3 separate regions of the Homo sapiens genome follow, and regions 1 and 2 are each linked to region 3. Evidence: fine-mapped QTL for protein levels in blood plasma. A gene starts in region 3. Each other region holds a variant in brackets. All regions are shown on one strand. Distances are from middle to middle. Region 1 has its middle 38 kb from the start of MRPS18A. Region 2 has its middle 43 kb from the start of LINC03040. Region 3 holds the start of VEGFA (vascular endothelial growth factor A).

Evidence for each region. PIP is the posterior inclusion probability: the model's chance that the variant is causal. Sun 2018 read protein levels with aptamers (SomaScan).
Region 1: its variant is fine-mapped to the plasma level of the VEGFA protein (Sun 2018, PIP 0.95).
Region 2: its variant is fine-mapped to the plasma level of the VEGFA protein (Sun 2018, PIP 0.95).

Annotation. Positions count from the first base shown.
Region 1 is chr6:43,723,984-43,726,741 of GRCh38, reverse strand. No RefSeq gene overlaps it. Among named protein-coding and RNA genes, the nearest start is that of MRPS18A, 38 kb to the right of the region's middle. RefSeq lists an enhancer at 1,712-1,801. The variant C/A (reference allele first, on the strand shown) is at 1,385.
Region 2 is chr6:43,956,609-43,959,366 of GRCh38, reverse strand. No RefSeq gene overlaps it. Among named protein-coding and RNA genes, the nearest start is that of LINC03040, 43 kb to the left of the region's middle. The variant C/T (reference allele first, on the strand shown) is at 1,497.
Region 3 is chr6:43,768,921-43,771,678 of GRCh38, reverse strand. It overlaps VEGFA (vascular endothelial growth factor A), which reads right to left and starts at 1,468. Exons shown (of 8, transcript NM_003376.6): 1 at 367-1,468. The coding sequence starts at 972. RefSeq lists silencers at 1-18, 89-1,028, 1,406-1,655 and enhancers at 1-277, 278-1,043.

The DNA.
Region 1 (2,758 bases), 45 kb after region 3:
CACCCAGGCTGGAGTGCAGTGGCATGATCGTGGCTCACTGCAGGCTTGACTGCCTGGGCTCAAGCAATCCTCCCACCTCAGCCTTCTGAGTAGCTGGGACTACAGGTGTGCACCACCACACCTGGCTAATTTGTTTACTTTTTGTAGAGATAGGGGTTTCATTATGTTGCCCAGGCTGGTCTCAAACTCCTGGACTCAAGCAATCCTCCCGCCTTGGCCTCCCAAAGTGCATCATTTGTTATTTTTAGGTAGATGCATAAGCAGATCATCAAAACATTAGGTGGTTAGTGCAGAATAAGGCAATGTAGATCCAGGGCATCCTGGGAGCACTGGAGAGGAGCCCCAACGTGCCAGGTACAGCCCAGCCAGGGAAGAGAGTCAGGACACTGGGCATAGATGCCCTCCCTGCGTCACCTAACCCTGCATCCCTGGAACCCACTGGCCACCCCCAAGGATGTTGCCTTTCTGAAGTGCTGGAGCAAGTGGAGAGGGGCAGAAGAAATGCATGTGCCCCACCTCCCTGCGGACAAGAGGGGAGAGAGGGTACACAGGTGGCCACAGGCAGGCAGAATAGGGCCTGCTTTCATGGGCCACCTCCTCCCAGGACCCTGGCTCTCCAAAGTGCCTGCCACCCTGTCTGGTGATAGAAATGCTGGGGAGTTGGGAGGAGGGCGGGTGCCCTAACACTCAATCCACATGGAGCAGAATGAAGGGGCAACTCCCCTTTCATGGAGTTCTTTCCTAGACCCTAGAGTTCAAGAGTTCAGGACTCCTGTTCACAGGAGCACACTATCTTTCCACCACTCTCAGCAGGGAGTATCACTGCCCCCACCTCTTAGATGAGTACATGGAGGCTGAGAAGGGACACTGATCTTTCTCAGTCACTCAGTTCAGAAGTGGCAGCGGAAAGTCAGCATCTGGGCTGGCTGCAAAGTGGCCACTCTTCTTCTCCTTCCCCGTTCTGCTTCTCCCAATTTGGGGTGCCCAGGAAAGCCTATTATGTAGGGAGGGCAGGGCTGTGAGACTCAGGGGAGGTGGGGGAGTGAGAGGCAGATATTGCTGTGTAAAATGACCTGGATCTGTGGTGAGGGCTCCAGGATTGGTGGAGAGAGCAGGGTACAGAACTGGGTTGGGGGGTTACAGCCAGGAAGAGATGGAACCACAGGGAGGAAGCCCCGCCTGCCCCCCATCCTCATCACAATAGGCATCGTGGCAAACAGAAGGAGGAAGGGGCAAGGCCCCAACCCCTCCTCCACAGTATCACCTGGCCAGGCAGCCCCATTCCCAGCCCTGCGCCCACAGGGACCAGGATGTGGGCAACTAGGGATAGACAAGCCCTGACGTAGACAACTCTGCGACCCCCATGCCTGGCCTCCTTAGCCAC[C/A]AGCCAAATACTCTTTGTGGTTTGGGCACCGGCCAAGCGCCCACACCCCAGCTCACGGGACCACAGCTTCCCTGTTGCATCAGGTTACTGAGCGCGTGCACACGCCCCAGAGCCTGTTACACAACTGTGGTGCGCGTGCGCAGCACCCACACACCCTGGGTGGCTCCACAGTCCCACAGAAGAAACCGCAGCCTTGCCTGGAGTGCACAGGGCCCGCTCCAGACTCTTGGCATTGAGAGCTGGAGATGGGGGTTAGGGGGAGGAGGGTGCCTGGTCTGGGGCCAGGATCTGTGAGCTCCACCACTGGCTCATTGTGAAACACCAGTAAGTCATGGCCCCTCTCTGAGCCTGTTTCCCCACCTAGAAAGGAAGCTCACCTTCCACCCTGATGATCTACATACCCAATTGCCCTCTGCGCCCCTCAACACCCTCCAAACCACCACCACCATCTCCCTTCCTGTAGGAATGTCAGCAAGAGAGGGAAGCAAGAATCTGCACAGAGAGGAGACGGAGGGGTGGATAAGATGACCTCTAAAAGGGCCCTTTCCTCTTGGGGCTTCTCCCCAGTAGAAGTGGGTGTGCCTTGAGGGGAGCTCCATCATCACCCTTTCTCCAGGAAGACCGAGGACAGTGGCCAGAGCTCTTTTGAGAAGAGACTAAGGAGCAGGAGGCAGGGGATGGGTAACTTTCTTCTGGAGGCAGGGGATGGGTAACTTTCTTCTTTGTAGTTTTTTCCCCCACTTTTCTACAACAGACATGTGTCACACACTACTTGCAATGGGTGGAGGAGGGAGTGTGTTGGGAGGGCAAATGCTCTTGGGGAAGGTTAATGTATCAAGCACACCCCCTTTCCCACCCTTAAGCCAGCATTTCCCTAACTATGTTGTGGCAAACGGGCTCAAATAAGCACAGGAAACCTGAGTTAAACACAGTCTAACAGGTTTTCTTGACTGCAGGACTTCTCTGAGCCTCTAACATGCTAATCTGGGCTACAACCCTCAGAGACGAGGGACGAGACAAGGAAACGCATTTAATCTCAGAGCTCTTTATAGGGGAGCATCTCAAGATGCACTTACTAGGCACTGCTGGAACTCAGAGTCCGGTGGCACGCCAGGCCCACACCCCATTGGTGAAGAGCCTCCATGGAGGAGAGACAGCCTAGGCCCCGGAGGACACCAAGGGCAGATGCCCTAGGCAGCTACCTCCCACTGCGTGAGTCCAATCCCAATCCTTCTCCCCAGAACTGGTCCAAGACCTGTATCCCAGTTACGAAGGCAGGTAGTAATGTGGGAGGGCCCATGGGTGGCCCTGCCGCTTCCCTGAAGTTACTTAGATCTGCAGTGACCCCTGCTGGCTCTAGCCAAAATCACCCCT
Region 2 (2,758 bases), 190 kb before region 3:
TTGGCTCATTTGTACATCCTGTTAAGTCAGGCGCTACATCTGGACACAGTCTTTTCCAGCAAGAATTTATTGTTTAGGGCTTGATGGCTTTCACAGCTTTCTCTATAACAACGGCATCTTCACAGGTGTAATTCTTCTAGACTTTCATGTTGTTCTCTCTATCAGGGTTCTCTTCCATAGCGTTGACAATCCTTTCCATAGAATACCAAGTGTAATGAGCCTTAAAGGCCCTTATGATCCCCCCGATTTAGCGGCTGAATTAGAGACATCATTTTGGGGGCAAATAGATCACTTCGACACCTTCAGTATTGAAGTCATGGGGTTCTGGGTAGCTAGGGGTATAGCCTAATATCAAAAGAACTTTAAAAGGCAGTCCCTTAATGTCAAGGTACTTCCTGACTTCAAGGACAAAGTATCATTGAACAAATCCAGAAAAAGTGTTCTTGTTGTTCAGGCTTTCTTCTTATTATTATTTTTTAAAAATAAAGACAGCATCCTGCTCTGTTGCCCAGGGTAGAGTGTAGTGCAGTCATAGCTTATTGTAACCTTGAACTCCTGGGCTCAACCAATCTCCCATCTCAGCTTCCCAAGTAGCCAGGATTACAGGCCCACACCACCATGCCAGCTAATATTTTAAATTTTTCCTCTCCTTCTTCTTCTCCTTCCTCCTCTCCCTCCTCCTCCTCCTCTTCTTCTTCTTCCTCTCCTCCTCCTTCTCCTTCTCCTTCTTCTTCTTCTCTTTTTGTAAAGACAGGGTCTCGTCATGTTGTCCAGGCTGATCTTGAATTCCTGGCCTCAAGGGATCCTGCCTGGGCCTCCCAAAGTGTTGGGATTAGAGGTGGGAACCCCCACTGCTGGGACAATTCAGGCCTTCTTGTTGTACAATCAAAAGACTGCAGCTGTTTACCTTTTCCCCTTGAGGCTCAAGGGTTAGTAGCTTTATGGATAAAGGCAGTGCTTATTATAAACCCAACTGCATTTGCACAAAACAATAGCATTTGCCTATCTTTTCCTGCTTAAGTCCTGGTGCTCACTTCCGTTTCTTATTAATAACTGTTCTTTGTGGTGTTTCTTCCATCCTCCTCAAGAATAGGTCACTTTTCTCCGCATTAAAAACCTGTTCAGGCAGATATCCTTTCTCCTCAATGATTTTCTTAATTCTGGGAATTTGCCACCCCTTGGTTGGCAGAAGCAGCTTCTGTTATCTTAATATTTTTCAAGCCAAACCTCTTTTTAAAATTATTAAACCATCCTTTGCTGGCATTAAATTCTCCAGCTTTAGAGTCTTTACCTTCCTTTTGCTTTAACTTGTCATATAATTACTTCACTTCTTGAATATTAGGTATACTTTTCTTATAGCAATCCTGCACTCACCATACAAGCTGATAAAAAGACATTTTACAAAAAGTGCAAGGTTTTGTGCCTACTGGCATAGCTGCAGTGATGGCTTCACAAATTTCCTTTTCTTTTTTTCACGGTGGTCCTTACAGTGGATT[C/T]GTTTATCTTGAAATGGTGGGTAACCACAGCTGCAGACCTCAGTCTACAGTATATATCAAGCAATTCAAGTTTTTCTTGAATGTAATGACTTTCCTCTGCTTCTTGGGAGCACTTCCAGCATCACTAGTGGCACTTCGTATAGATCCCATGGTGTTATTCAAAGTTTACAGCATTGCACTAAATACAATGAAAGATATGTGAGAACAGCAAGAGATCTTTCTTTACTGTGATACACAATTTACTGGAGAGATGAACTGCTCATGCAGAGATGATTAACATCGCATGGCATTTTAAGCCCTACAACACTTGAGTTCACCACAATAGCAACAAGAGGTAGCTACGAAATTATTATAGCAGTACAGCATACACTACAGTTAATTTTATGCAGTTATAACTTAATGCTGTATTTTTATGTTTACATTACTCTCAACTATGAATAGTGTCATTTACAATCTGTGTTTGTGTGTGTACATTTTGATAAATTATTAACTTTTTATATTAGATTTGTGTACATTTTATGGTAGTAAATGATAAAATGACTAGTAGCTACACGTGTTTTATGCATTCATGACATACCTGCCTTTTTCTTATTTTTTTTTTGATATTGACAGGCTACACAGTTTGCCTGCAGGTTTTTTCAAATTGTTGCAAAATCTCCAAAACATTTACCAATATATTTACTGAGAAAAATCCATGTATAAATGGACCTGTGCAGTTCTAACCTGTGTTGTTCAAGGGTCAATAGTAATTTTATAATTAGTATTTTATGCAATTGTAGTTTAGATAAGTTAAAAGAAAAATGTATTTATAGTGTCTTACATTTACCTATGTAATTACCTTTTTCGTGTGTTCTTTACTTCTTCAAGTGGATTCATGTCACTGTCTGATGTCATTTCCTTTCAGCCCGAAGGACTTCCTTGAGTACTTCTTGTAGACACGCATGCCAACAACAAATTCTCACCCTTTGTTTACCTGGGAATGTCTTTATTTCAGTTTCATTTTAAAGGAATACTTGTATTAGATATGACTACTTGGTTGACAGTTTTTGTCTTCTTTTCAGCACTTTGAATATGCCATCCCACCTCCTTCTGGCCTCCATTGTTTCTGATCTGAAATCAGCTGTTAATTATATTGTAGTTCCCTTCTATGTAATGCATCCTTTTTCTCTTGCTGCCGTCAAGATTTTCCCTGTCTCTGTCTTTCAACAGGGTTACTATGGTGTTTGTCTATGGATCTTTTTGTATTTAGCCTATTTGCACTT
Region 3 (2,758 bases):
GACTTCCAGTTCGTCCGGGACCAGCGGCCGGGAGCAAACTTCAGCCGGCAGCGGCAACGCAAGCCCAGCCCCCTCGGCCTCCTCCTCCGGCTCCCGCCCTCGGCTGGTCGGCCCAGATCGTACGTGCGGTGACTCCGGTGGGTGGGCAGGGCCCGCGTGGGCGGTGAGCCTCTCTCCGGGTACCCTCCCACCTAGCGCGCGCGCCCCCTCCCCCTGCACCTAAGACGACAGAGGGGGACGCCGCACGCCTGGTGCCCATGGACCCGCGTGGGGCACGGAGCCCCCACGCGCGCGCTCGCACGCACGTCCCCAGCCGGGAGAGGCGCTCGCAGCGGCCCGCGGCGCCAGCAGGGCACGACCGCTTACCTTGGCATGGTGGAGGTAGAGCAGCAAGGCAAGGCTCCAATGCACCCAAGACAGCAGAAAGTTCATGGTTTCGGAGGCCCGACCGGGGCCGGCGCGGCTCGCGCTCCCTCTCCGGCTCGGGCTGTGGGGCGGCCCGCTCTCCTCGGCGCCTCGGCGAGCTACTCTTCCTCCCCGGCCCGAGGCCCGGGCCAGGGCCTGGGGAGCGCGCGCGGCTGGAGCACTGTCTGCGCACACCGCCGCCTCACCCGTCCATGAGCCCGGCTTCCGAGCGCCGAGTCGCCACTGCGGCCCCCTCTCCTCTTCCTTCTCTTCTTCCTCCTCCCCCTCCTCCGGCTGCGGCTCCTCCCGGCCCGAGCTAGCACTTCTCGCGGCTCCGCTCGGCTCGGCTTCCCCCGCGCGGACCACGGCTCCTCCGAAGCGAGAACAGCCCAGAAGTTGGACGAAAAGTTTCAGTGCGACGCCGCGAGCCCCGACCCCCTCCACCCCGCCTCCGGGCGCGGGCTCCGGCCCCTGCCCGCGGCTCGCCGCCGCGTCCACTGTCCGCCGCCGGCCGGGGAGGAGGTGGTAGCTGGGGCTGGGGGCGGTGTCTGTCTGTCTGTCCGTCAGCGCGACTGGTCAGCTGCGGGATCCCAAGGGGGAGGGCTCACGCCGCGCTCCGGCGGTCACCCCCAAAAGCAGGTCACTCACTTTGCCCCTGTCGCTTTCGCTGCTCGCACGCCCGCGCGCTCTCTCTGACCCCGTCTCTCTCTTCCTCGACTTCTCTCTGGAGCTCTTGCTACCTCTTTCCTCTTTCTGCTGGTTTCCAAAATCCACAGTGATTTGGGGAAGTAGAGCAATCTCCCCAAGCCGTCGGCCCGATTCAAGTGGGGAATGGCAAGCAAAAATAAATTAAAACGAGAAACAATACAGTTTTAAAAAAAAATGTTTAAGAAAAAAGAAGAGGGATAAAACCCGGATCAATGAATATCAAATTCCAGCACCGAGCGCCCTGGCCGGTGAGTCCGCTGACCGGTCCACCTAACCGCTGCGCCTCCCGACAGAGCGCTGGTGCTAGCCCCCAGCGCCACGACCTCCGAGCTACCCGGCTGCCCCAAGCCTCCGCGATCCTCCCCGCTACCAGCCGACTTTTAAAAAAAAAAGGGGGGGGCGCATGGCTCCGCCCCGCCGGGACCCCGCCCCCGGCCCGCCCCGGGGGGCGGGGACAGGCGAGCCTCAGCCCTTCCACACGCGGCTCGGGCCCGGGCTCTGCGGACGCTCAGTGAAGCCTGGCCCGCAGCCCGCCGCAATGAAGGGGAAGCTCGACCCCCACCAAGGTTCACAGCCTGAAAATTACCCATCCGCCCCCGGAAACTCTGTCCAGAGACACGCGCCCGCGGGGCATTGGCGAGGAGGGAGCAGGAAAGTGAGGTTACGTGCGGACAGGGCCTGAGAGCCGTTCCCTCTTTGCTAGGAATATTGAAGGGGGCAGGGGAAGGCGGAGAGCCGGACAGGGACGGGTGGGGAGAGGGACACACAGATCTATTGGAATCCTGGAGTGACCCCTGGCCTTCTCCCCGCTCCAACGCCCTCAACCCCACACGCACACACTCACTCACCCACACAGACACACACGTCCTCACTCTCGAAGACGCTGCTCGCTCCATTCACCCAGCTTCCCTGTGGTGGCCGAGCGCCCCCTAGTGACTGCCGTCTGCACACCCCGGCTCTGGCTAAAGAGGGAATGGGCTTTGGAAAGGGGGTGGGGGGAGTTTGCTCCTGGACCCCCTATTTCTGACCTCCCAAACAGCTACATATTTGGGACTGGAGTTGCTTCATGTACAGAGAGCCCAGGGCTGGGCACAGGGGCCACAGTGTGTCCCTCTGACAATGTGCCATCTGGAGCCCTCATCTGGCCTGCAGACATCAAAGTGAGCGGCAGCCAACAGGCTGGAGTGACTGGGGTCCTTTGGGAAGTGTCCAGGGATGCTTCCCAGGGGAGAAGAATTTGGCACCAAGTTTGTGGAGCTGAGAACGGGAAGCTGTGTGGTTCCGGGGTTAGTCAGTGACTGGGAGGGAAGAGGACCTGTTGGAGCCCACGTATGCACTGTGGAGTCTGGCAAAACCCAAAGGGGGAGGCAGCTGGGCAGACAGAGGCCCTTGTTCCTGCTGCCCCCCCAACCCCAGATGTTGCCAGGGAACTGAGGCCAGGGGGCTGGTGGGGGCGGGTGGAGGCCAGGGCCTGCGTGATGATTCAAACCTACCCGCCAGCACTAAGGAACGTCTGTAGGCCAGCTGCCCAGAGCTCCCACCAGGCCAGGGGCCAAGGCTTCTATCAGCCCAAGCCCAGACTCATAGCTCATCTTCTGAATAGAAATGGGGGTTTCGTCTCAGCTCCCCCATTCCCTCAGGATCC